Homo sapiens: one gene and its partners. The protein of the gene in region 3 purifies or fractionates together with the protein of the main gene of each other region. This does not show direct contact. Each region holds a gene or a part of one and is shown on either strand. Other genes may lie near its edges. The genes, in order: DNAJB12, SCO1, EYA2 and PNKD.

Region 1 (6,067 bases), on a different chromosome or scaffold from region 3:
ATCACCCTCGGCAGCATCATGGCTATTGAAAACCAAGCCCGGCTGGGCGCTGTGGCTCACGCCTGTAATCCCAACACTTTGGGAGGCCGAGGCGGGCGAATCACAAGGTCAGGAGTTCAAGACCAGCCTGGCCAACATGGTGAAACCCCGTCTCTACTAAAATACAAAAATTAGCCGAACATGGTGGTGGGCGCTTGTAATCCCAGCTACTAGGGAGGCTGAGGCAGCAGGATGGCTTGAATCTGGGAGGCGGAGGTTGCAATGAGCCGAAATCATGCCATTGCACTCCAGCCTGGGCAATAGAATGAGACTCTGTCTCAGAAAAACAAAAACAAAAACAACCAAGCCCACCAGGCATGGTGGCTCACACCTGTAATCCCAGCACTCTGGGAGGCTGAGGCGGGCAGATCGCCTGAGGTCAGGAGTTTGAGACCAGCCTGGCCAGCATGGTGAAACCCCGTCTCTACTAAAAATACAAAAATTAGCCGGCGTGGTGGCAGGCGCCTGTAATCCCAGCTACTCGGGAGGCTGAGGCACAGAATCGCTTGAACCCGGGAGGCAGAGGTTGCAGTGAACTGAGATTGTGCCACTGCACTCCAGCCTGGGCAACAGAGCAAGACTCCATCTCAAAAAAACAAAAGCAAGCAAAAACAAGCCTGTGGTTCCTGCAGATTAAATGAGGAAGGGCCCAAGTCTCTGGCAGCAGGTCCCTGTGTCCATTTATTCCAGGCACGAAACCTCAGTCAGGCCTGGGCCCCAGCGCCCTGGGTAGTAAAATCCTAAAGCCTCTGACAAGCTGACCAGCTGGGAAAACAGGCATCTGGATCACTGCAGGGACCCAGCATCCCTCTGTGCTAAGGAAGGACAGCAGCACATCCCAGCACATTCCTTCAAACACGCCAGGTGCCTGCTGGCCTGAAGACGCCATGCTGGGTGCCACACCCACCAGTGCGACCCACTGAGGTCTGACCCAACAGGCTGAGAGCCAGTCTCACTGGGAACAGAGTATGGGGCTCCAGTGGAGCACTGTGCCCTGGGCCACTGCTGCCGCACTCCGAGCTTGTGTGATCTTGCTGAGTCTTCAACTGGGAAATCCAAACACAGGAGCTCACAGCTGGGGTTGCTCTGAGTAAGGGAGGCGGGCTCCTGTAGCAAACCCTGAGAGGGTGCTTGGGGAGGAACAATAGCAACAATCATTTTTCTTACCCAGTGATGTGTGTCAGGTGGGTACTTTCACAGTGATCTGCATTAGCTCATTTAATTGTCACAGCAGCCTTAGAAGGAAGGTCTCATTACCTACCCCACCCCACTGTAGGAAGAGGGTACTGTGGCAGACTGCTGCCATGACCACACAGCTGGTTAGGAGGCAGAGGGGCCTTCGAACCCCAGGATGTCCAGCTCCAGGGTCCATGCTCTTAACTACGCTGCTATCCTGGGCTGCACGTGTCTGATGGGGTGGGGATCGGGGACAGGGATGCAAGCAAAAGCATAGAAGAGACATCAAATTCAGAAAGGCCCAGATTCAAATCTCAGCTCTGCCATTCCTAGCAGTGTGACCCTGGCTGATCTATGAAATCTCTCTGAACCCTGGTTTCGTCACGGTGGCGGAGGATGAAATGGGATAATGTGTGTAAGCACCTGTGCCGAGTCTGACAGAGAGTGAAGGTTCAAGGCTGATGAAGTGTCTGGCCACAGAAGTGGGCTGGCCAGGGAAGTGAGGGAACCTGTGGTGGGGGCTGGGGAGGAGGAGGGCTGGGTAGCGGGGGAGCTCCAAGGCTCAGGAAGGCAAAGACTCAGCGCTCAGCAGACTCTGGAACCAGTAGTAACCATGAGATTTCAGGCCATCCCAGATACCAGGTCCATGCCAGCTACCAAGGGGATGGCAAGAGAAACCGAAAGATGAAGAGATATTGGTCAAGGCGGGGCAGGAGGAGGAGGCAGTATGCTGTTTCCTAGAGCTTTTCAAGAAGCTCTTTATTATTTCAGTTCCTCTGGAAGTTCTGGTGGCCCAGGCTGAGCCTGGCAGATCCTAAGGGCAAAATAACCAGTTATTCAACTACCAGAGATGAGCAGGAGCACTAGCCAGGAGATGGGACAGGCTCTCTCTTGTACCTCTCAGAGAAGATTCTGGAAGCTTTTCAGGGCAGTTACAGGGAATCAGCCACTCTAATTTCCCTACAGTACAGAAAGAGAGCCCAAAGGAGAATGGGGGTGCCCTGGGTCACATAGAAGCTTTCTGCTTGAGTTGGAAATTAAAGATTTCCAGTTGCTGGCAAGTAGGGTCTCTCTTCTGGCCTGGGGGATGTGACAGCTTCATGCTTACATCCCTCATGGCACAGAGGCTGACAGGCAATGTCACAAAAAGAGACAGAACAGCTTAATGTTACCTTCTCAGTAAAGCTGGCAGACTTAGAAAAGGAAGGGAATTCGATAGAAGAGAACAGAGCTGCGGTGGAGAGGCACCTGAGGTAGAGCTGAGAGGATTTCTATGGCCAAAGCCACTGAACCCAGACTAGAGTTAGATTTGGCCGGGCAGTGGCTCACACCTGTCATCTCAGCACTTTAGGAGGCCAAGGCAGGAGAATGGATTGAGCTCAGGAGTTCGAGACCAGCCTTGGCAACACAGGAAGACCCTGTCTCTACGAAAATAAAAAAATTAGCCAGGTGTGGTGGCACATGCCTGTGGTCCCGGCTGTTTGGTAGGCTAAGGTGGGAGGATCACTTGGGCCTGGGTGGTTGAGGCTGCAGTGAGCTGTGATTGTGCCACTGCACTCCAGCCTGGGCAACAGAGTGAGACCCTGTCTCAAAAAAAAAAAAAAAAAAAAAAAAAAAAAGACTGCCCGATGGGTTCAAACCTAGCTCTGCCATTTGCTAGAAGGGTCATCTTGGACAAGGTAACTTAGCTCATCTGTGCAAAACTCTATCTCCATCATACAGGCTAAAAGAGGAAATGAGTGAATGCCAGCAAAAAACTCAGCCCAATGCCCAGCAAATATACAGTGTTGTCTCTGACCGTGACTTTGTTAGTAAGTGAGTAGCTGAGTTTCTGGGCTCTGTGTACCTACGGTGCTCACAGTGAGTCAGAAAAGGGCCTGGGATTGGAGATGGACAGCTCTGGGTCTTTGCTGGCTAGCCATGTGGCCTTGCCAGGTTAGCTGGTTCCTGAGTGGAGAGACGATCTCTGCTCTCATAGGAGTGCTCTGAGGGGTAAATAAGATTCTGTGAAATACAGTGAATGGAAGGGGGCTAAGTGCACAGTGGGGCTCATGAAGGTTGACTGACTTGAAGGGTACAACCCCACCCCGGACCTCGCCAGCACCAGAACATCTCTCACTCCTGGACTCTGAATGCAGAATCCCTCAGCAATCCGTCTCCTTTTCCTGTGGGCTGGCCTTCCCAGCTTGGCCTTCATGACTTAGCCCAGAGTCAACCATTTCACAGAACATTGGATAGCCTGAGCTGCAAGGAACCTCAGGATCATCCCAGCCAATCCTCTCTTTGTATGCTGGGGAAACTGAGGCCTACAAATGCTCTCGTGAGCTCCCTGGGAAATCTGGCACCTTCCACATTTGTTACAAAGCCTGAGTCAAAGCCAATGGCTTACCAGGCTGCCAGCTACTGGACAGAAACTCCCAGAAAGGGACTGACTGGCTCCACCATCTCTAGTCTGTGACCTCCCAGCTTAGGGCCCAGCTACTGCTTTGCAGTTTAACTCAGTGCCTCCTTGTCCCACCTCCTGCAGCAGGAGTTTCAAGCCCCCTCACATCCCTTTTTGCTGCAAAGGCCAACAGTGTGAGGTCCCTCATCCTTTCAAGGTTGCTCTGAGCCTCCCCTCTCTCGTGACTCTCCCCTCTCTGCCCTTCCACCTCTCCAAGACCATCCTCTGCCCATGCTCTCGATCCTTCCCTTTTCAACTCTTAACTTGTCCTTTTCCCATGCAGTGCCTGCGGCATCACACAGGGCTGCTCACCACCTGCTGCCATTACCTCTCCATGGCTACCTGGCCGCTGCCCTCTCCGGGGACTGCCTTTTCCTGTTGCTCCATCTCAATCTGTTGCTTCCTCTGCCTTTGCCTGTGGGCTCAGGGCAGGTGTTGCCTGCCATTGTGCCTGCAGCAACTTTCTCTCCATGGTCTATACTTTCCCACAGTGACCTCAGCCATGCACAACTCCAGTGAGCTCCAGGGAACAGACGATACCACACTTTCACCTGTAACCTGGAGCGCTCTCCTGAGTTCCAGGCTGACAGCTCCTTTGGACTATCCCACTGGCACCTCCCACTCTGCTCATCTCTTCCCATCTCAGTTCTTCAGCCTGGTTTCTTCCTGGTCACAGGGGCTTCAATTCTGATTCCCCAGCATCCCATCTGATTCTCCTCTGCACCTCTCTCTCACACAGGCCTGGTGCCTCTTTTCCAGGGACCTTAGCCTTATCCATGACTGCCTTGTCCCAGGCCCTCAGAATATCCAACCAGCTCAAGGCAATTCTCTCCTATTGGCTTCCTGCCCTGAAGCTCTCTTCCCTCTCATTAACCTTTCATGCTGTTCTCTTTTAACAACAGTGCCCGTACTTTATTCCTGCTATCAAAAACCTCAATGGTTTCCTCACTAACTACAGAATAAGGTGAAAATATCTTGGCCTGGTAGAAAAGGATTTCTATGATCTGGCCCCATTTTATTTCCCAAACTTAATCCTCTCTGTATACGAATTACCACCTCCACTGCCTCTAAATCTTGCTACACTTTGATCTCTTCCCCCAAACGTTACAACTTTCAGCTCCTTTGTCTTCTTCCAGGATGCCTTTCCTCAAGTCTCACACCGTCCTCCAAAGCACAATTCAAATGTTAACTCCTGTCATCCCCAAAGCATTCCCTCACTGTGAGATAACATTATTTTTATGCACTTGCTACAGCACTCACTAAACTGCTGATAATTTAATGTTCAGGAGATTGTCCTCCGCACCTCCTCCCCACCATCAGACTGTGAACCCATGGATGATGGGGCCTGATTTTTTCATGCCTGTCCTTAAGTCCTCAGCGTCTAACCTTGGGTTTATTTTTTGTTTAATTACAGTTCTGTCTTGTAATATTTGTTTCTGTAAGTTTTGTCTCTTTCACTAGATTATAAGCTCTTTTGAGGTGAGGGATCACATTTTACCAATCTTGCTAGCACCAAGCAGAGGACTTTGCAAACAAAACATAAATGATCTTCAACAAAAGTCTGCTGCATTGAATGAGCATCTGGGATGAGCCTAAACCCAAAGCAATAGACCGCCACCTAATATATCTGTATTACTCCCCCTGGGGAGGCAGGTAGCCAGCCCAGTGGGTAGCCCTGCCCTCTATTTTTGAAGTAAGATCTTTCCCTGTCCCAGACCTAAACTAATCCCAGGTCTTTGTCAGCTCAGTGGAGGGCTGCAGATGGTAAAGTTTACACGGATGCATAAGGCGTATAGTCTCATAGTCTTTCCAGAAAAGCACAAATATGACAAATATGCATGCAGGTGGTTCTTCTGTCTCAGCAAATTCCAGAGCCTGAGCCCCAGAGAGGACACTCCTTCAAGCTCCTGAACTGGTGCAGGGGCCTGCTGACAGAAAGATCCCCAGAGGCCCTGTGGCCCATCCTTTCTTGGCTGCCTGCTCCTGAGCCCGCAGCAGCATCAGTGTCAGGCAGAATTCTGACAGCTGGAGGATACCACCCCACCACAGAATATGAATTAATTCACAGGGAGGCTCCTCGAGCAGGTTACCTCAGGTGTCCTGGCAAATACAGCCCGAAACCCTCTCCAAGGGGAGGCAAACAGGCCAAAGATCAACCTGCAAGAGTCCGGAGGGAGGAAAGTTCAGCAGTCCAGGCTACCTCTTCCACCAGCGTTCCGCTTTCTCAATCTCATCAGGCGGGCAGGGCCGGTTAGGAGGCTGACTGCTGTTCCTCAATTTCATTTCTTTTCCTTCATAAACATTTACAGAGTCACAGAACATTTTACTTTCTAGCTGTGTCATCCTGGGCATCCCTTACCTCAGAGATTTTCCTCACCCATAGAATAAAGATAATGATCTTTGCTCTGC
Region 2 (6,067 bases), on a different chromosome or scaffold from region 3:
CCTTTTAAAGTGCGCAGTTCAGTGAGTTTTCACAGATGTATGCAGTTGTGCAGCGACCACTACCAAGACACAGATCATTTTTACCACTTCCCCAAATCCCCTCCTGCCCCTGGCAATCATTTGCCACTGCAATATTATTAGGCCTGTGTTGAAGACTTAAGTCAGGAGAAAACTGACATATTTACATTGAGTCTTCTCACCAAGGAACAAACTATTTTCTTAATTAATAGCTCATCATTTTTTCCAAAATTTTATAATTTTCTTCCCCTGGATCTGAGTCATTATTACATTGATTCTATTTATTATAGATTCTGTGTGGTTATTGTGAATTTAGTAATTTTTAAATACAGTAGGCATTGATTTTTGCATATTTACAACTGGATGCTGAGTAGATACATAAAACACTCAAAAGAGAGTTGAAGTTTAGGTGCACTAGTTGGCACTTTGGGGCCTCATGTCTAAAAGCTGCCCTAATTTTTCTTTTTTTTCTTTTTTTTTTTTTTTGAGATGGAGTCTTGCCCTGTTGCCAGGCTGGAGTGCAGTGGCATGACCTCAGCTCAGTGCAATCTCTGCCTCCCGGGTTCAAGCGATTCTCCTGCCTCAGCCTCCTGAGTAGCTGGGACTACAGGCGCCCGCCACCACGTCTAGCTGATTTTTGTAATTTTAGTAGAGATGGGGTTTCACCATGTTGGCCAGGATGATCTCGATCTCTTGATCTCGTGATCTGCCTTTTCTTTATCTTGTCTGGTTATGTGCATCCCAGAGGCACTCTCCAGGGCCTACTTTTTATATCCCTCGTACTCAGCTTAACATAGGTATTCCGCAATGTTGACGTCGTCAATCAATCAGTGAATGACTGTCTTGTGCTGTGATCCCGCACGTTCCCGACAGGGCTTTCTGAATGTACGGGGCTGAGGCTGGTACAGGGAAAAGTGAGCCATACAAAGGCCTGCCCTGCTTCGGGCACTGAACGCTTGCCTGTCTCCGTTAGGAATGGAATGTAATCCTTGCAGGGCTCTCTGCCCCACTTTCTTCTGTAACTAAGACGGCCTTAGCAGAGCCTGGGCTGACAGGGAAGCAGGCAGTTAGTCTCTCAGTCTATTGCATCAGTGGTTCTCAGCAGCCTACTGCACTAGGGCCAACAGAGATCAAATGATCCTCAATCAGGTTTCAATTGAGTATTTGAGAATGCCTACATGGAAAGACTGCACTGAGCCCCGATAAGGCCCCACAGGGTAACCAAGCAGCATCTCTCCCTGCTTTTTGATCATATTATAACAACTCGATGGAGAAACGCTTGGTATACTGTGCTGAATAGAAGTTCTGACAGGGAGTGACAGTCGTCTTTGACAAAAATTTCAAAAGTGGGGCAATTAAATAATTATCAGAAAATGGAATTTGTTTATTTGAGAGACTCTTCAAATTGTGTTTCATGGGAGCGAAATTAAATAAAGAGCTTCCTGGAGGGGGAAAGATTACTTAATTCATTATTCTTTCTTGACTTTTTCCCCTTCCCTATTGGGTAAAAATTAATAGACTCTGTGGTATTGGGGGTTGAGGAGAATCCATGTGCCTAAGACTGAGGTGGGGATCTTGTTAAAATACAGACTGTGGGCCAGGCGTGGTGGCTCACATCTGTAATCCCCAGTACTTTGGGAGGCCAAGGCGGGTGGATCACCTGAGGTCAGGAGTTCAAGACCAGCCTGGCCAACATGGCGAGATCCTGTTTCTACTAAAAATACAAAAATTACCATGCACGCCACCGGGCATGGTGGCGGGCGCCTGTAATCCCAGCTACTTGGGAGGCTGAGGCAGCAGAATCACTTGAACCAGGGAGGTGGAGGTTGCAGTGAGCCAAGATCGCACCACTGCTCTCCAGCCTAGGCAACAAGAGCGAAACTCCATCTCAAAACAAACAAACAAACAAACAAAAAAACAGACTGTGATTGAGGAGAGCTGGAGTGGAGCCTGAGAAGCTGCATTTCTGCTAAGTACCCCAGTGGTGTGACACTGCCGGACCACAGACTACACTGAGTAGCAAGGCTGTAGAGGGAGTCTGAGTATTAGCTTTGCTACAAACTTGTAGATAATTCACCACTTGGGCCCTTCTTCCTCTATACAGTGAGGACATACCAGATGGTGTGTGACACGTCTGACATTGTGATGGCGAAACCACCTCAAGGTCCTCACGAAACCTTGGTGGCCAAGGCCCTTGGTATGACCTCTTGAGACCAGGAGGCTCTCACAGGCATCTACAGAGCTCAGCCTTGGCCCCTTACCTTTGCATCATCCTTGAATGGAAAAAGGATCACGGGCTGCCAACTGCAGACCCACCCAGGAATACTTCAGATGGCTCAAACACAGTGGTAATGTCCCTGGCTTACTCCATCAAAATGCAGTGAGCATCATCAGAGTGGTCCGGAGCTTGACTGACAACGACCAGCTGCTGCTCACCACAGCAGCCAACAAGGAATGTGCCCACTCTCCCCTTCAGTTTGCTCCTCCTCAGTGTCAGGGTCCCAGGGCCCTAGAAGTCTCTAAAAGCCACTGAGCAAACTTCTTTGCCTCTCAAAGCTGTGGCAACTTTAGGTCCGTCCTCCAGCTTAGGGGTGACTAGAGCGATTGATTTCCTGCCCCTTCAACTGAGGGTGAGAAGACACTGTCTCTGGGGCCTAAGTGTGGCTACTCTGCTCTGCCACACCACACCTGAGGCCCACTCTCCTACCATCTGCCTCCTGCTGTTGCTGAAGCTTGCTGACACTTTCTCCACGCTGTCTTCTTTCAGGCCTTCTCTCGCCTGGGCAACCTGATGCTGGCATTAGCTTTTATCTCTCTGCCCAAGCTACAGCAAATTGCTGAGAGCTGTCCAATGCATTCTCCACATCACAGACTTGCTTTCTTTCAAGACTGCCTTTTGCAGGGACTCTTTTTCCCCTCTACTTTTCTTTTGGAGTTATAGGGTGCAAACAGTAAAAGGCATAAATCTTAAGTTCAAAGTTTAATATGTTTTTATGTATGTAAATCATCACCCAGATCAAGCTACTGAACATTTCAATGGCTCTGGAAGCTCTCCTGGCACCCCCTTCTGAATTACTAACCATCTCACCTCCTGCCAGAGTTAAGCACTATTCTGACTTTTAACACGATGGGTTAGTTTTCCCTGTTCTCCTAGTATCATACTTCATCCTAACACAATTATTCCTGTTTTACAAATTTAAAGAAAAAAAACACCCAACAACGAGGACAAATGCGTTAGTCTTTTTAAACTGGTCCAACCTGAATAACGCCACCCTATGTTTAAGAATGGGAAGAGAGGCTTGGCGGGGAGGGTTGTCTTTCCCTAGGGTTGTGTCTTCCTTGAACTGGGTGCAAACATGGACAAAGTCACATGTATGACATGGAGACAACACATCCCCACAACGAACTGCATCATAGCTCCTTGAAATCAAAGGACCAAATTATAAACGAGTTTACACTGACTGGATATTTGATATTAAGCAAAAACCAAACGACAAAATCCAAGAGCAAAAACAAAAACCTTTTTGCTGTGCTGATGAAACTGTGGTTGTTTTTTTCTTTCTTTCTTTTTTGTTTTTTGAGACAACTCTTGTTGCCCAGGCTGGAGTGCAGTGGCGTGATCTCGGCTCACTGCAACCTCCGCCTCCCAGATTCACACGATTCTCCTACCTCAGCCTCCCGAGTAGCTGGGATTACAGGCACCCGCCACCACGCCCGGCTAACTTTGGTATTTTTAGTAGAGACGGGTTTCTCCATGTTGGTCAGGCCAGTCTCGAACTCTCAACCTCAGGTGATCCACCCGCCTTTGCTTCCCAAAGTACTGGGATTACAGGCATGAGCCACCGTGCCCAGCCAACTGTGGTTGTTTTTAAAGGACAAAGTTGGTCTCTTTCAGAGGCACATGCTGGGAATGGGCTGGGGTGGCAGTGGGTGGGGGGGTGCAGACAAAATTAAATGGTGGTAATCACTGAAGCTTGCTGATGGGTACATCAATTAGTTAACTATTCTACTTTTTGAATAAGTTTCCAAATTTTCACAATAAAAAGGAAAAAAAGAAAACTCAAGTTTTCTTTCGGTTAAATACCCACATCAATGTTCTCATGAAATAGTGCACAGAGTCAGTGACTTTAAGGCCCCTTATGAGGGGGACATTAGCATCCTCATGTTGAAGATTGAAAGGAAATACCTCCAAGTATTATTTCTTGGTAGTGGAACAACAGTGATTGAAAATTTTCTTCCTTCAACTTTTCTGTATGCCAAACTTTCTTTACTGAGGATATAGTATAATTACGGAAGAAGAGCCAACAAACTTTCAAATACATTGGAAAAGTATATAGAAAATAATTACCCCTATAAGGTCTAAAGGTGTTATTAAGGAATATGTGGCTAAAGAGGCTATTACTTGAATCTTGTTAATGAATAGAAATAACCGTCCATTTTGTTACACAGTAATATAACCCCTAACTGGTAAGTAAAAAGCACAAACTAGGCCGGGCGCAGTGGCTCACGCGTGTAATCCCAGCACTTTGGGAGGCCAAGGCGGGCGGATCACCTGAGGTTGAGAGTTCGAGACCAGCCTGACCAACATGGAGAAACCCGTCTCTACTAAAAATACAAAAATTTAGCTGGGTGTGCTGGTGGGCGCCTGTAATCCCAGCTACTCGGGAGACTCAGGCTGGAGAATCGCTTGAACCTGGGAGGCGGAGGTTGCAGTGAGCCAAGATTATGCCATTATTGCATTCCAGCCTGCGTGAGAAGAGCGAGACTCCATCTCAAAAAGAAACAAATAACAACAACAAAATAAAAACCAAAAAAAAGTACAAACTAATTGGGTAACAAATGCTCGCATGGGTGACTGCTCTTTTAAAGGTAGCTCATATACACATACACAAAGATTTAAATGGTACTAAACAGAAAACCAAAAAAGGTTTGGGAGATTATGGATGATTTGAAAATATTAATGTCAATTTCTTTTAAACATAAATTTAAGAACAATAAAAGCTATTTTAAAGGATCTTATGCAGACGCATTTACAATTTAAAATCATTAGCCTCCCAACTCGCATATTTTACTGGTAGTCAGTAAATCTCACCTCTTACACTTAAGATATCAGCTGCTTCATGAACAGCCAGACACATGAATACATTCATGCCTACTGCATTGATAGGATTCTTATACTTTTCAAATAAACAAGTGGCATTTCTTAAAATATTAATTCTATTGAAGAGTCTAGTGAAAACACTGTAACCCACCCAGGTAAAGATTTGCAAGGGATATTTCACTGAAACACAGCCTTGAGGCCGGGCGTGGTGGCTCACACCTGTAATCCCAGCACTTTGGGAGGCCGAGGCGGCGGATCACCTGAGGTCGGGAGTTTGAGACCAGTCTGACCAACATAGAGAAACCCAGTCTCTACTAAAAATACAAAATTAGCCGGGTGTGGTGGCACATGCTTGTAATCCCAGCTACTTGGGAGGCTGAGGCAGGAGAATTGCTTGAACCTGGGAGGTGGAGGTTGCAGTGAGCTGAGATTGCGCCATTGCACTCCAGCCTGGGCAACAAGAGTGAAACTCTGTCTCAAAAAAGAAAAGAAAAAAAAAACAGCCTTGCTTTTGATTTCCCAAGATTTGCAGCTGAAAAACGTTGCCCCACTGGCATACGGAACCTCCGTTTTGGTTGGATTCACACAGTCACCATAAGCGCACGATAGCAGCAGAACAAACAGGAACCTACCTAGAAATTGGGACCCGAGTTTTGCGCCTTAATTCTCCGAGACTGTCCCCTTGTGCATAAACAGGAACATCTGGAAGACGTCACCTCTAAGGTCCCCTTCCCCACTTCTAACATTCTGACTTCAAGCCTTTAAACTTGACACTAGAATGAAGAACAAATAAAAGTTTTCTCCAAAAGCTGCTGTTCCCTTTTTGGATCATTTCACAAGCCTTAACCTGCAACAGCTGAGAACGAAGACTGAATCTTATCTAAGAGCAAACTTGCTGCAAAGGGATCCACACAAATGTTTTGTGGCTTAAAACAGATAATCTTTTTA
Region 3 (6,067 bases):
GCTACCTGAAGAACAGTAAGGAATGTGCCTGGGGCAAGTAACTTTCATTTTCTCCCCTTTCTTTGAGTACTCCTGGGAATGGGTCCAATTCCACAGTACCCTAAGTATTCCACTGTCATTTTATTTAAGTCGTATAACAAATCCTATATAGAAGGTGTCTGCTCCATGGGCTGATGAGGAGATTGGGGCTCAGAGGGCTCTTGTGATCTGCCCGAAGACACACAGCAGGTTGGTGATAGAGGGGACCCCATACCCTCTCCAGGAGCTGCCCAGCCTCAGACAACTCTGTCTCATGGTCCCACACCATAGCCAAGGGCCTGGCCTGGTCTGAGGAGGAAGTCACTTCATTCCGGTTGGCAAGAAATGGCAGGGATTCTTGAAGGATTTCATCCAGAAAAGGATTTTGCAACCCACTTACGTTACTTTTTCCATGTGCTGTTCAAGAAAAAATCTACTGGTTCTCAATGGAATGTGGGGTAAAAGGCCACAGCAACTCAGGCTCATTGAGGATGAAGGATGCTATTGAAATGTAAGAATAGATCATAAATAACTGGTTGGTCAGGGGAGTCTCTCCAGTCCACCATGATTGTTTGTGACCTTGTTCCAGGAGGGCTGTGGGTCATGTGGTACAACAGGCCCATGCTTTGGGTCACACAGACCTGGAATGGAATGCCGCTGGGCAGTCACTCGATCTGTCCAAGTCTCAGTTTCCATGTTTGTTAAATGGACACATGTATATCATGTATTTTTTTTTTTTGAGAGGATTAAATGAGCTTTGTGAAAGTGTCTGTCACATAATAACTCCTGTGAGCCATTTTTATGTCTCCTTCTTCCCTCCTCCATTCTCCTCCCTGAATAGACTTTTTTTTAATTTATAACTCTCAGAGGCATACCTGTATACTTTAATTTTTCAAAGTCCCAGAACTCAGGGCAAGTTTCATTCATTAGGTAACAGCAGAAGATTAAAACATCCATGGGGAGAGCTAACCGTTCAGACTCCCACCACCACTTTATGCAGTAGGAGGACTGTCTCTATTTTGTGAATAGGGAAACTGAGGCAGAACTAGGACTTGAACCTAGGAATTTGGGCTCCCCATTCTGGATTCCCAGTGATACAATCCGCCATCTGTAAAACCTGGTGAAGACTACAATGTTACAACTTAGATTAGGTTTGCTCATATAGCATATCAGATCTGGAAGGTTCTGAGTGGGCACCATTCAAAGCCAGGGTTGGGAGGGGCCGTGCGTCTTTGGCAGGATCGAGTAGCAGGAGAAAAATGAGAAATATTTTGTTTTTCTTTTCCAATTCATTAAGGCTTGTTGAGGGGAGCAAGAACCTCATTTTTTTCCTTCCCATTACTTCCCTTTTATTTTAGGGGAAACATGCATTTCAAAGACTGCTCAATAGCAGCGTTGAAGTCTCAAGTTCAATCACAATGTCCCCATTGTGGCTGGGGGACTCCCTGGCCTTTAAGCTTGGGTTATAAAAATTTGGTCTGAGCCCAAAGTCTGGCTTTAATAGAATATTTTAATTTTGTGTAATGAATATTATTTTAAATCTGTTTGGCAGTTTTAAAATGTGTTCTTTTATTTTCAAATTAAAATTTACTAATGTTCAGTGCTTTCTTGGGGGTGGGGGTACAGCAAGAAATGGGGGTGGTAATAATACAAGCTACCATTTATTGAGTGCTTACTATGTGCCAAACACCCTGCTCTGTGCTCGGTGTGCCAGCCACTCTTTTAAGCCTCCCAACCACCCCAGGAACAGTTAACTGCTGTCTCCGATGTCTGGGACGTTGAGAGGGTCAGACCCCTGCTGGAGATGGCAGTCCGTGAGTGATGGACTGACTCAGGCTCAGGCCAGATCTGTCTGAGTCCAGGGCCTGTGCTATCGACCACTGCCCAACATTCTCTCGATACCTAAAATGACTCAACTGATCAATAGCTTATAGACACCGCACTGATCCAGTGCACTGTTCCCCATAATCTCAATAGCTAGCTCATTGAACATTGAATGGAGGCAGGCAGTGTAGCAAAGCTAAGTGTTTTCCATGTATCGCCTCATTTATATTCTCACAATGGCACTATGAAAAGTTATTTTATTATTGTTGTTACTATTATTATTATCATCCCAAAGAGTCTAAGTAATTTGCTTCAGGTCAAATTCATAAATAATAATAATAACTGTAGCTGACACTGATATAATTCATACCACTTGCCAGCCGTAGTTCCAAACACTTCATGTTTATTAACTCAATCTCCACGATAGCTTTCTGAGGAAGGTGCATTATTATTCACCCTGCTTTACAGACGAAGAAACTGAGGCACCGAAAAGTCTGGTAACTTACCCCCAAGTTAAACGCAGGAGTAGGTTAACACTGAGGGGAAGTGTAACCTGAGCAGCCTGGCTCCTGGACTCAAGCTCTTAATCTCGAGGCTGAAAGTCAGTACCCAGGCTGAGGTTTGGAAAGTCTGATTCTCTACATTCCTCCTCATTCTGCACAACGCATTGAGGGAAGCAGAGAGTTGCTGTCGGCCGAGTAAGCCTGGGGCACTGGTAAGTCCTATATGCCTAGTGCGGTTTCAGGTGCAGAAGCCGAGGCACTGCTCTTACTGAACCAGGCATAGCTTCTGTGGGTGAGGGTCTACAGACTGAGGTGTTGCTTCCATTCTGCTGCTCAAACATTAGAAAGCTCAAAAAGTCATGTCAACACCCTCTGCACCCTCAGGAAAGAAGAGGCCATGGGATACTGGTGAGAACACATTGGGATCCTCCTACCGGAGATGCTGGATTTGGTCCTTCTCACCTCTGGCTCTCCAGTAAACAGCCCAGAACACAGCTAAATAAGTGTTGTTAAGTAAATGGATGAAGGAATGAAGTCACTTGTAATTTTCCCCTATCACTGTGCAATGTGTCAAGCACATTGGAGGCACCTGATAAATAATAAATCATTGAAATGGTATACGAAATGTCCCAAGTGCATGTTATTTCTGGTCTACAAGGATTGTCTTGTCATATTGCAATAGCTTAGAGGTCAGCAAACTTTTTCTGTAAAGGGCCAGATAGTCTTTGCAGGCCGTATGGTCTTTGTAGTACGGCTGTTCAACCCTGCGGTTATAGGGCAAGAGCAGCTGTAAGCAATGACTTAGGCCACTAACTGCAGTGATGCTACGACCATTTCCATAGGTCCAGCTTGAAACATTCATTCATTTCTACAAGGGCAGATTCAAAATCTTGTGAGAATCTGCTGGCGTCTCTTACTTTCTCAACCTGATTTTTGTACCTAACCATCGATAAATATCCATAAGGCAATGCAAGTGGAAAAGGACTTTAAAATCTAGCTCTCCAGGGCAGACAGATGGAGAAAGGGAAGTTCTTGTTATACCACGGGAGCAGGCTGGACATCCTAGTGGTTAGGAATCAAAACTGGGTTTAATCCTGGCTCTGGCATAAGCCATGTGATCCTGGACAAGTTACTCTCCAGACTCAGTTTCCACATCTGTAAAATAGAAATAATAATAACAGCACGTTCCATCTACTGCCATTTGGAGACAAAACATATAAAGTATTTCCACAGCACAATGCCTGGGACATAATAAATATTCAATAAATAATAAGTGTTCAATAAAACCTGTGATTCCCAAACAAGTCTTACAACTCTGTGTTTTCTTAAAAACAAAAGAAAATCCCCAAAACTAATTCACTAAAAATAAGCACAAAGGAATGACAGCAAGGCTACAGGAAGACATTTCCAAAATCGGGTCCCAAGGTGTTAGAAAAATTGTCCACTCTAGATCAAACCTCTAGCAAACCCCCAACCTCTCTGTGCTTCCCCCTCAAAAAAAGCCTGATTCTATGTCCTTTTATCAGTTTGTCTTTCTTGTGGGTGCCTGAGCAATGCTGAGACATTTTGAGCGTTTTAGACATTTGCTGAGTTTAAGGCATTCTTTCTCCCCTCCTACCGGTCTTCTCTCCACACCCCAGCCATTAACTCCTCCAGGGAGTATGGTCTGTTTAGCAAGAGGAGAGCACTGGACAGCTTGGGCCCATCGCAGACCGGAGGTGAATCATCTTCGGGGCTCCATTCTTTTTCATGTCTGGACGGGGCTAAAACTCTGTTGACAACACAGGCACAAGTCACAACTTGTTATACCACGTGACACCTTCCGAGCAGCGGAGGCTTCCCTCTACTCTAGGAGTCACACAAAAGGCCAAAGGTGCACGATTCTCCTCGGGGCTCCTTCCTCTCCGCTCCCTTCCCAACCAAGAAGGACACGCAGAACTTTGCTGGAGAGATCAATGTTTCTAGAACACCCTGAAACAAAAGTCCTGATATGTGCAAATAATACACACCCACAAAAGAAAATAACCTCTTTGCGCTGACACCCTGCCTCTCCGAAGAGGACGTTTTCTCCCTACTTGGAATTTCCATCAGCACCTGGGTTGGTACCAAACTCAGGACGTGGTGGACACGCTCTCTGACTCTGTATTTCAGGAAGCTGCCAATCAATAGAGATTTAAAGGTGAGTACTTATACCTTGCATCTTAAATGCTAGAAAACATAGTGGGAACAAAAAATTGTTTTGGAAACCATGAATACCTTAACCACAAAGTGACTATAGGAAGGGAATGGGAGGTGAAGAAACTGACCAGAAGGAACATTTTCATTTCATTTTATTTTCAGCTTCTGACTTCCGCATATCCGAATACCAGGTAGGAAACATCTGCTTTGGAGTAAGAGAAGGCCCCAGTACCTGCTTTTTCTCCGGAACCGTGAGAGGGAGCCATGGGGAGGAGACCAGAATTTCAGCCTTCCTATCTCCCTTTACCACAAGGACGCCTTGAGGACCCAAGTCAAATTGAGATCTTTCAACCACGGGCTCGGAAACCCGCTTTCTGTGTCCACTTCAACCAAACACGTCTAACAGGCAGGAATTTAGAGGTGGCCAAGGTAACGAGAACTAGTGGTTTTCACCCTGTTTGGTGACCTTCATAGGGCTTATTTATGCACTTCAAGCGCATGACCTAATACATGTTGGTTTGGCTTCTCTTCTCGTAATAGCAGCCTGTAAAAAGCTTTTGAGAATTCCCCGTGTTTTCTCATTTTGGGTCAAGAAAATAAAATCGATATCTAAGTAACCTTAAAAAAATGGCCTGCACAATCTAAAAATTTGGAATGTTTCCACTAGGACTAAGGATATCTCTGAAAGCCTCAAAGATCATCAAAATGAAGTCCAACATTTGCTGTTTTTAAGGTGAGATATTTGGTAACGGAGTATGAGAGAACTGGCTAAGGGGGCTTTTTGACATAAGTCAAACAATGACATTTAAAACTCACGTAAAAGCAATTACTGTGTGGAATTTTTCTGTGTTTTTCTCATTTCTTAAACAGAAGTGTATATGTTTTCAGCATAGCTTCTTGCTGTAATTTTCTTTCTTGACAAACCCACATCTTACCATGAAACCCAAAGTATGCATGCTGCAGAAACAATAATGGTTGAAACAGACCCGGCTGTCTCTGGCATGATTTTTCTTTACAAAATTAAAATGTCTTTTGGCTAATACACGTGTATTTCAGTTATGAAAGGCCATTCTTGGGAGATGAATAGAAAAGAAAGGGGAACTGACAGATTTAGCTGACGCGAGACAAAAGTAAGTTGCCATATACAGTAGTCAAACCCTCCAGTTCCTCATTCTTTGGGGAAAAATATGTTGATTTTATCATTTTTCCTTTAGTTACATTAGCAGAGAGTTGACAATTCTCCTCTGAATGACTGCAAGTAGATACGTTCGTATCTATTACATCTGGGAACACAGACTTTTAAAAAATGTAACTTTACTAGATACTCAAAAGGAAAAAAGAAGAAGAAAGTGCAATGCCATTGAAATTACACACATTTTCATGTTACTGACACAACACTATTGATACCAAATGACAAAAGAGTTTCTAACCTCTATTACATACTTTGTTCATTTTTAAAGATGTTTAAATTGGCATTGCGGCGCGTCTAAGTTCCTGTTTTAGATTTCTGCATATATCTGAAGGCAGAGGCAGACTTTTCAAAA
Region 4 (6,067 bases), on a different chromosome or scaffold from region 3:
TACATGCCCATGAAATGAAAGAGAAATGACTGCCCTGCCCTCTGGGGCTTCAGAAGCTTGATCAATGGAGTGGTGGGAGACTGTCCCCTCTCCTCCCTCCCTGCTGGTGTCCAGGTGACTTCACGAGGAAGGCGGGTGCCGGCCCGTACTGACTTCTTGATCTCTGGCCCCGGCCGTCCTCAATGGGCCCAGTCCTGGCAAGCCCAGCTGGGACAAGGGTGGGCCAGGGAAGACGGGAGCCCCTTACCAGTGCTTGTGAGTACACAGAATGGCGACCAAGGTGACCCCTTCCTTTTCAATGGAAGCCTGCGAGAGAGAGGAGGTTTGGAGACTGGGGAGCAGGATGCAAGAGGCACTTGAAGCAGCAAGAGCCAGGAGTGTGGGCGCTGGTGGAGAGGAGAGGAGAGCATGGAGAGATGAAGCAGAGGAAAGGGATGGAGCTGGAGGGGAGAGATCCAGGAATGTGAAGCACGGGGCACATGGAGGCAGAGGGACACTTGTACATAGAGAGAGGCAGACACAGAGAGATAAGGAATGGGAGGGAAAGACAGAGAGACCCAGATACTGACAGACAGAGGTGACAGAAAGAAAGGGGGTCTGAAGGGGGCCAATGGGAGTGAAAGCCAGCCTGGAAACTCACTAGACCCAGAGTCCTGGGCCAACACCCCCAGCCCTCTGGCTCTGCATCCCCCACTCCTGCTCTCCCCTTCTGCCCAGCCATGCCCTGTACCCCCCTTCCCCAGGCTATGTGTGCGCATGTGCACGTGTGAACATGGAGCATATGGGACACATCCCACGGGCAGACGGACAAGGGTCAGCCCTCTCTAGCAAGGCGAAACTGCCAGTCCCCAAGGTGACTCCAGGCACCCCCTGCTCCCTGCCCTCCCCTCACCTGCACAGCCCGAGGGTCTGAAGGGTCCACAGCCACAGCCAGCTGGGCCTGGGTGTCGATGATGAGGTAGCTGTAGTTGTCCGAGAGGACAGGGATGGGAAGCACCTTCACTCCTGGGGACAGAGATGGGCTGTGGGCGGGGTAACAGGCAGGGAGCCCAGGGGCTGGGGTATGTGAAGGGGAGCAGGCGGGGAGGGTGGGGGCACAGAATGGGGGATGCTGGCCGGGGCAGTCAGAGCTCACCATTGAAGAGGCGGGGCTGGGTTTTCGAGTGGCCTTTAGGGTAGCGATTCCGAGCCCTGCGCAGCTGCTGTCGGTAGAAGAGGTACCCGAGCCAGGTGCGGGTGTACAGGCTGTACCTAGAGGGCGAGTGGGTGGCCTATGATTAGCCTTTTCTCCCTAGCTCCCCTAGACTCCTTCGTGATGCCTGCAGGCCCCACATCTCCATTCCTTTGGTGACCCTGTGAGCCAATGCAATTCCACTCTCACTTATTATGTGCCTACTGTTTGCCCTGCTTAGCACTCAGGACAAGATGGAGAATGAGACGGACACACCTAGAACTCAAAATCTATCAGGGAGACATGAACTGAGGAACTCACAGAAGAAAATTGGAGAGGCCAGGCGCAGTGGCTCACACCTGTAATCCCAGAACTTTGGGAGGCCGAGGTGGGCGGATCACCTGAGGTCAGGAGTTCGAGACCAGCCTGACTAACATGGCGAAACCCTGTCTCTACTAAAAATACAAAACTTAGTCGGGTGTGGTGGCACACGCTTGTAGTCCCAGCTACTCAGGAGGCTGAGGCAGGAGAATTGGGCATCGCACCACTGCACTGCAGCCCAGGCCAAAGAGTGAGACTCTGTCTAAAAAAAAAGAGAGACTTGGAGAGTGAGGGGTTTAATCTAGCCCAGGGTCTAGCACCTCTGATGAAGTGACATTTGCAGGGAAGAAGGAGTAGGAATTAGGAGGCTGAAATGAGGTAGAAAAAATATTTCAGAAAGAACAGTGGTGGTCAGACTTTAGCATGCATCCTAATCATCTGAAGAAGGTTGGGTACAGTGGCTCACACCTGTAATCCCAGCACCTTGGGAGGGAAGGAGAGAGGATCACTTGAGCCCAGGAGTTCGAGACCAGCCTGGGCAACATTGTGCCCTATAGGGTCTCTACACACACAAAAAAAAGAATAGCTGGGCGTGGTGGCACACGCCTGTGGTCCCAGCTACTCAGGTAGCTGAGGCAGGAGGATTGCTTGAGCCCGGGAGGGTGAAGCTGCAGTAAGCCATGATTGCACCACTGTACTCCAGCCTGGGTGACAAAACAAGACCCTGTCTCAAAAAAAAAAAAAAAAAAATCATCTGAGGCTGGGTGTGGTGTCTCACGCCTGTAATCCCAGCACTTTGGGAGGCCGAGGCAGGTGGATCATCTGAGGTCAGGAGTTCAAGACCAGCCTGACTAACATGGTGAAACCCCGTCTCTACTAAAAATACAAAAATTAGCCGGGTGTGGTGATGGGCACCTGTAATCCCAATTATCTTTTTTGTAGAGATGGGGTCTCAGTTTGTTGTCTAGGCTGGTCTCGAACTCCTGGGCTCAACAAATCCTCCTGCCTTGGCCTCCCAAAGTGTTAGGATTACAGGTGTGAGCCACCGTGTCCCACCTGAAATTCTTTTTTTTTTTTTTTTGAGACAGAGTCTCGCTCTGTTGCCCAGACTGGAGTGCAGTGGTGCAATCTCGGCTCACTGCAACCTCCACCTCCCAGGTTCAAGTGATTCTCCTGCCTCAGCCTCCCGAGTAGCTGGGATTACAGGCTCACACCACCATGCCCGGCAATTTTTTGTATTTTTAGTAGAGACAGGGTTTTGCCACGTTGGCCAGGCTGGTCTCAAACTCCTGACCTTAGGTGATCCGCCTGCCTCGGCCTTTCAAAGTGCTGGGATTACAGGTGTGAGCCACTGTGCCTGGCCAAGCCTGAAATTTTTGTTTGTTTGTTTGTTTTTGAGAGGGAGTCTCACTCTGTCGTCAGGCAGGGGTGCAGTGGTGCAATCTCAGCTCACTGCAACCTCTGCCTCCCAGGTTCAGGCGATTCTCCTGCCTCAGCCTCCTGAGTAGCTGGGACTAGAGGCGTGCACCACCACACCCAGCTAATTTTTGTATTTTTAATAGAGATGGGGTTTCACCATGTGGGCCAGGATGGTCTCGATCTCTTGACCTCGTGATTTGCCCACCTTGGCCTCCCAAAGTGCTGGGATTACAGGGGTGAGCCACCGTGCCCGACCCTGAAATTCTTAATGATTTTATCTTTGACCTTGTGTCTTGCAAGTGGAGCCTGATAGGACAGTGGGACATGCAGGGAGCAAGAGACACACACAGTGAGTGTGCTCCGTTCCTCGCTTATCATACCTATACAGAGTCTGCAATGCCCATGAGCACACAAATCTGGGGGACACACAACGCATGGGAGTTCAACAAGACTCAAAGCAAGTACAAGGCGAGTGCACACCTATGACTGACCCAAGAGGCCAAGCTTTCAGTTCAAACTAGAACGTGCTTCAAGTGCACAAAGACAGAGGTGTTCTAAGAAACACGAATGACCAAGGAACTCTGCTGCATCCTTTCTTGCTTTTGTGTTATCCACCTATTTATGCTGCAAATAGCGATATAGAAAGGAAAGGGAAGATAGGGTAACCAATCCATCCTTTTCCTTTCCATCCTTCCTTATTAACTAGCAAGCCAACAGTGCTGGCAGAATGTGCACGTATTAAGAATTGAAGGCCGGGCGCGGTGGCTCATGCCTGTAATCTCAGAACTTTGGGAGGCCAAGGCAGGTGGATCACATGGTCAGGAGTTCAAGACCAGCCTGGCCAAGATAGTGAAACCCCATCTCTACTAAAACTACAAAAATTAGCTGGGCGTGGTGGCAGGCGCCTGTAATCCTAGCTACTTGGGAGGCTGAGGTTGTAGTAAGCCGAGATCTCACCACTGCACTCCAGCCTGGGCGACAGAGTGAGACTCCATCTCAATAAAAAAAAAGAAAAGAATTGAAGGCTGGGTGCAGTGGCACACACCTGTAATCCCAGCTCTTTGGAAGGCAGAGGCTGGTAGATCACTTGAGGTCAGGAATTGGAGACCAGCCTGGCCAACATGGTAAAACCCCATCTCTGCTAAAAATACAAAAATTAACAGGGTGTGGTGGTGGGCGCCTGTAATCCCAGCTACTTGGGAGGCTGAGGCAGGAGAATCACTTGAACCTGGGAGGCGGAGGTTGCGGTGAGCCAAGAAGATCACACCATTGCACTCCAGCCTGGGCAACAAGAGTGAAACTCTGTCTGAAAAAAAAAAAAAAAAAAAAAAAAAGAATTGAAGGCCAGGTGTGGTGACTCACTCCTGTAATCCCAGCACTTTCGGAGGTGGTGATGGAAGAAGTGCTTGAGCCCAGGATTTTGAGACCAGACTGGGCAACATGGCGAGACCCTGTCTCTACTAAAAATGCAAAAATTAGGCAGGCATGGTGGCATGCACTTGTGGTCCCAGCTACTTGGGAGGCTGAGGTGGGAGGATCACTTGAACCCAGGAGGTCAAGGCTGCAGTGAGCCATGTTTGCACCACTGCACTCCAGTCTGAGTGACAGAGGAGACCCTCTCCTGGTAAGAACTAAATACACATCCATGTATAAGCTAAGAAATATTAATTATGTCGTTTCTGTGATTCTACAGGAGTTAAATGTCCTTATATTTGTATTTAAAACAGGCATTGCACAATATTAAGCAAATGGTAAAATTCCTGCTAATAATTTAAATGCTTCTTACTTAGAATGACATTAAATAGCAAATTAAAAACATCACAGGTCAAAATAGAGATTGTAGAAGAAAAAAAGCTTCATATTTTAGTACTTTTAATGGCTATTTTTTCCAAACTTTTTTTTTTTTTTTGAGATGGAGTCTCACTCTGTCACCGTGCTGGAGTGCAGTGGCACGATCTTGGCTCACTGCAACCTCTGCCTCCCGGGTTCAAGTGATTCTCTTGCCTCAGCCTCCCGAGTAGCTGGGATTACAGGCACCCACCACCACGCCTGGCTAATTTTTGTACTTTTAGTAGAGACAGGGTTTCACCATGTTGGCCAAGATGGTCTCAATCTCTTGACCTCATGATCAACCCGCCTTGGCCTCCCAAAGTGCTGGGATTACAGACATGAGCCACCACGCCTGGCTGACCCTAAGTCTCTACAAGGATTGACCGTGTATGTGGGAGCAGGGGCAGCCGCTCTTCAGACCCCTAAGGGGAGAGCTAGCTGATTTGTCTGCAAGCAGTTGGGTCAAAACCAAGCAGGTTTCCATGGCAATTTGTAGATATGATTTAGGTAAAGTTTAATCACTGCATTGTCTGCTCTATGTACCCATGGGTTTATATTGATTGGCAATCTGGGCACATGGTTGAAGGGCTTTGCCAACCTTTATTTGTCTTTATGTTCCTTTTTCGTAGGCCTTCTTTTTTTTTTGGTTTTATTTCTAAATTAGATTTGGCCAACTTACATTTCTTCAACAATATTTACTGAATCCTTGCTATTGGCCAGGCACTGAACACACACTGAGCAAGGCAAACTCACTGTCCTTGTGAAGGTTCTATCTAGTAGGACAGACAGGACAATTAACATTTTTTTTTTCCAGATGGAGTTTCACTCTTGTTGCCTGGGCTGGAGTGCAATGGCGTGATCTTGGCTCACCGCAACCTCCACCTCCCAGGTTCAAGCAATTCTCCTGCCTCAGCCTCCCAAGTAGCTGGGATTACAGGCATGCGACACCACGCCCGTCTAATTTTGTATTTTTAGTAGAGATAGGGTTTCTCCATGTTGATCAGGCTGGTCTAGAGCTCCCGACCTCAGGTGATCTGCCTGCCTCAGTCTCCCAAAGTGCTGGGATTACTGGCGTGAGCCACCGCGCCCAGCCCATTTTTATTTATATTTATATTTATTTATTTATTTATTTATTTTTTAAAGAGATGGGATCTTCCTCTGTCAGCCAGGCTGGAGTGTGGTGGCTCAGTCACAGCTCACTGAAGCCTGAAACGCTGGGGTTCAAGCGATTTTCCACCTCAGTATCCCGAGTAGCTGGGACTACAGGCATGAGCAGACATGCCCAGCTAATTATTTTTATTATTTTTTTGAAGAGAAGATGTCTTG

What was found.
Region 1: the proteins of EYA2 (region 3) and DNAJB12 purify together in Homo sapiens (affinity purification with mass spectrometry, with the first as the bait; one large-scale study listed by BioGRID). This does not show direct contact.
Region 2: the proteins of EYA2 (region 3) and SCO1 purify together in Homo sapiens (affinity purification with mass spectrometry, with the first as the bait; one large-scale study listed by BioGRID). This does not show direct contact.
Region 4: the proteins of EYA2 (region 3) and PNKD purify together in Homo sapiens (affinity purification with mass spectrometry, with the first as the bait; one large-scale study listed by BioGRID). This does not show direct contact.

Annotation. Positions count from the first base shown.
Region 1 is NC_000010.11:72,347,594-72,353,660, forward strand, and holds part of DNAJB12 (dnaJ homolog subfamily B member 12), read right to left. Parts: intron 1-6,067. UniProt on the Homo sapiens protein: Acts as a co-chaperone with HSPA8/Hsc70; required to promote protein folding and trafficking, prevent aggregation of client proteins, and promote unfolded proteins to endoplasmic reticulum-associated degradation (ERAD) pathway.
Region 2 is NC_000017.11:10,672,519-10,678,585, forward strand, and holds part of SCO1 (protein SCO1 homolog, mitochondrial), read right to left. Parts: 3' UTR 1-6,067. UniProt on the Homo sapiens protein: Copper metallochaperone essential for the maturation of cytochrome c oxidase subunit II (MT-CO2/COX2). Not required for the synthesis of MT-CO2/COX2 but plays a crucial role in stabilizing MT-CO2/COX2 during its subsequent maturation.
Region 3 is NC_000020.11:46,899,884-46,905,950, reverse strand, and holds part of EYA2 (protein phosphatase EYA2), read right to left. Parts: intron 5,564-6,067; exon of another isoform or gene 4,686-5,563; intron 4,525-4,685; exon of another isoform or gene 4,203-4,524; intron 1-4,202. UniProt on the Homo sapiens protein: Functions both as protein phosphatase and as transcriptional coactivator for SIX1, and probably also for SIX2, SIX4 and SIX5.
Region 4 is NC_000002.12:218,334,967-218,341,033, reverse strand, and holds part of PNKD (probable thioesterase PNKD isoform 1 precursor), read right to left. Parts: intron 1,252-6,067; coding exon 1,136-1,251; intron 1,006-1,135; coding exon 893-1,005; intron 307-892; coding exon 248-306; intron 1-247. UniProt on the Homo sapiens protein: Probable thioesterase that may play a role in cellular detoxification processes; it likely acts on a yet-unknown alpha-hydroxythioester substrate.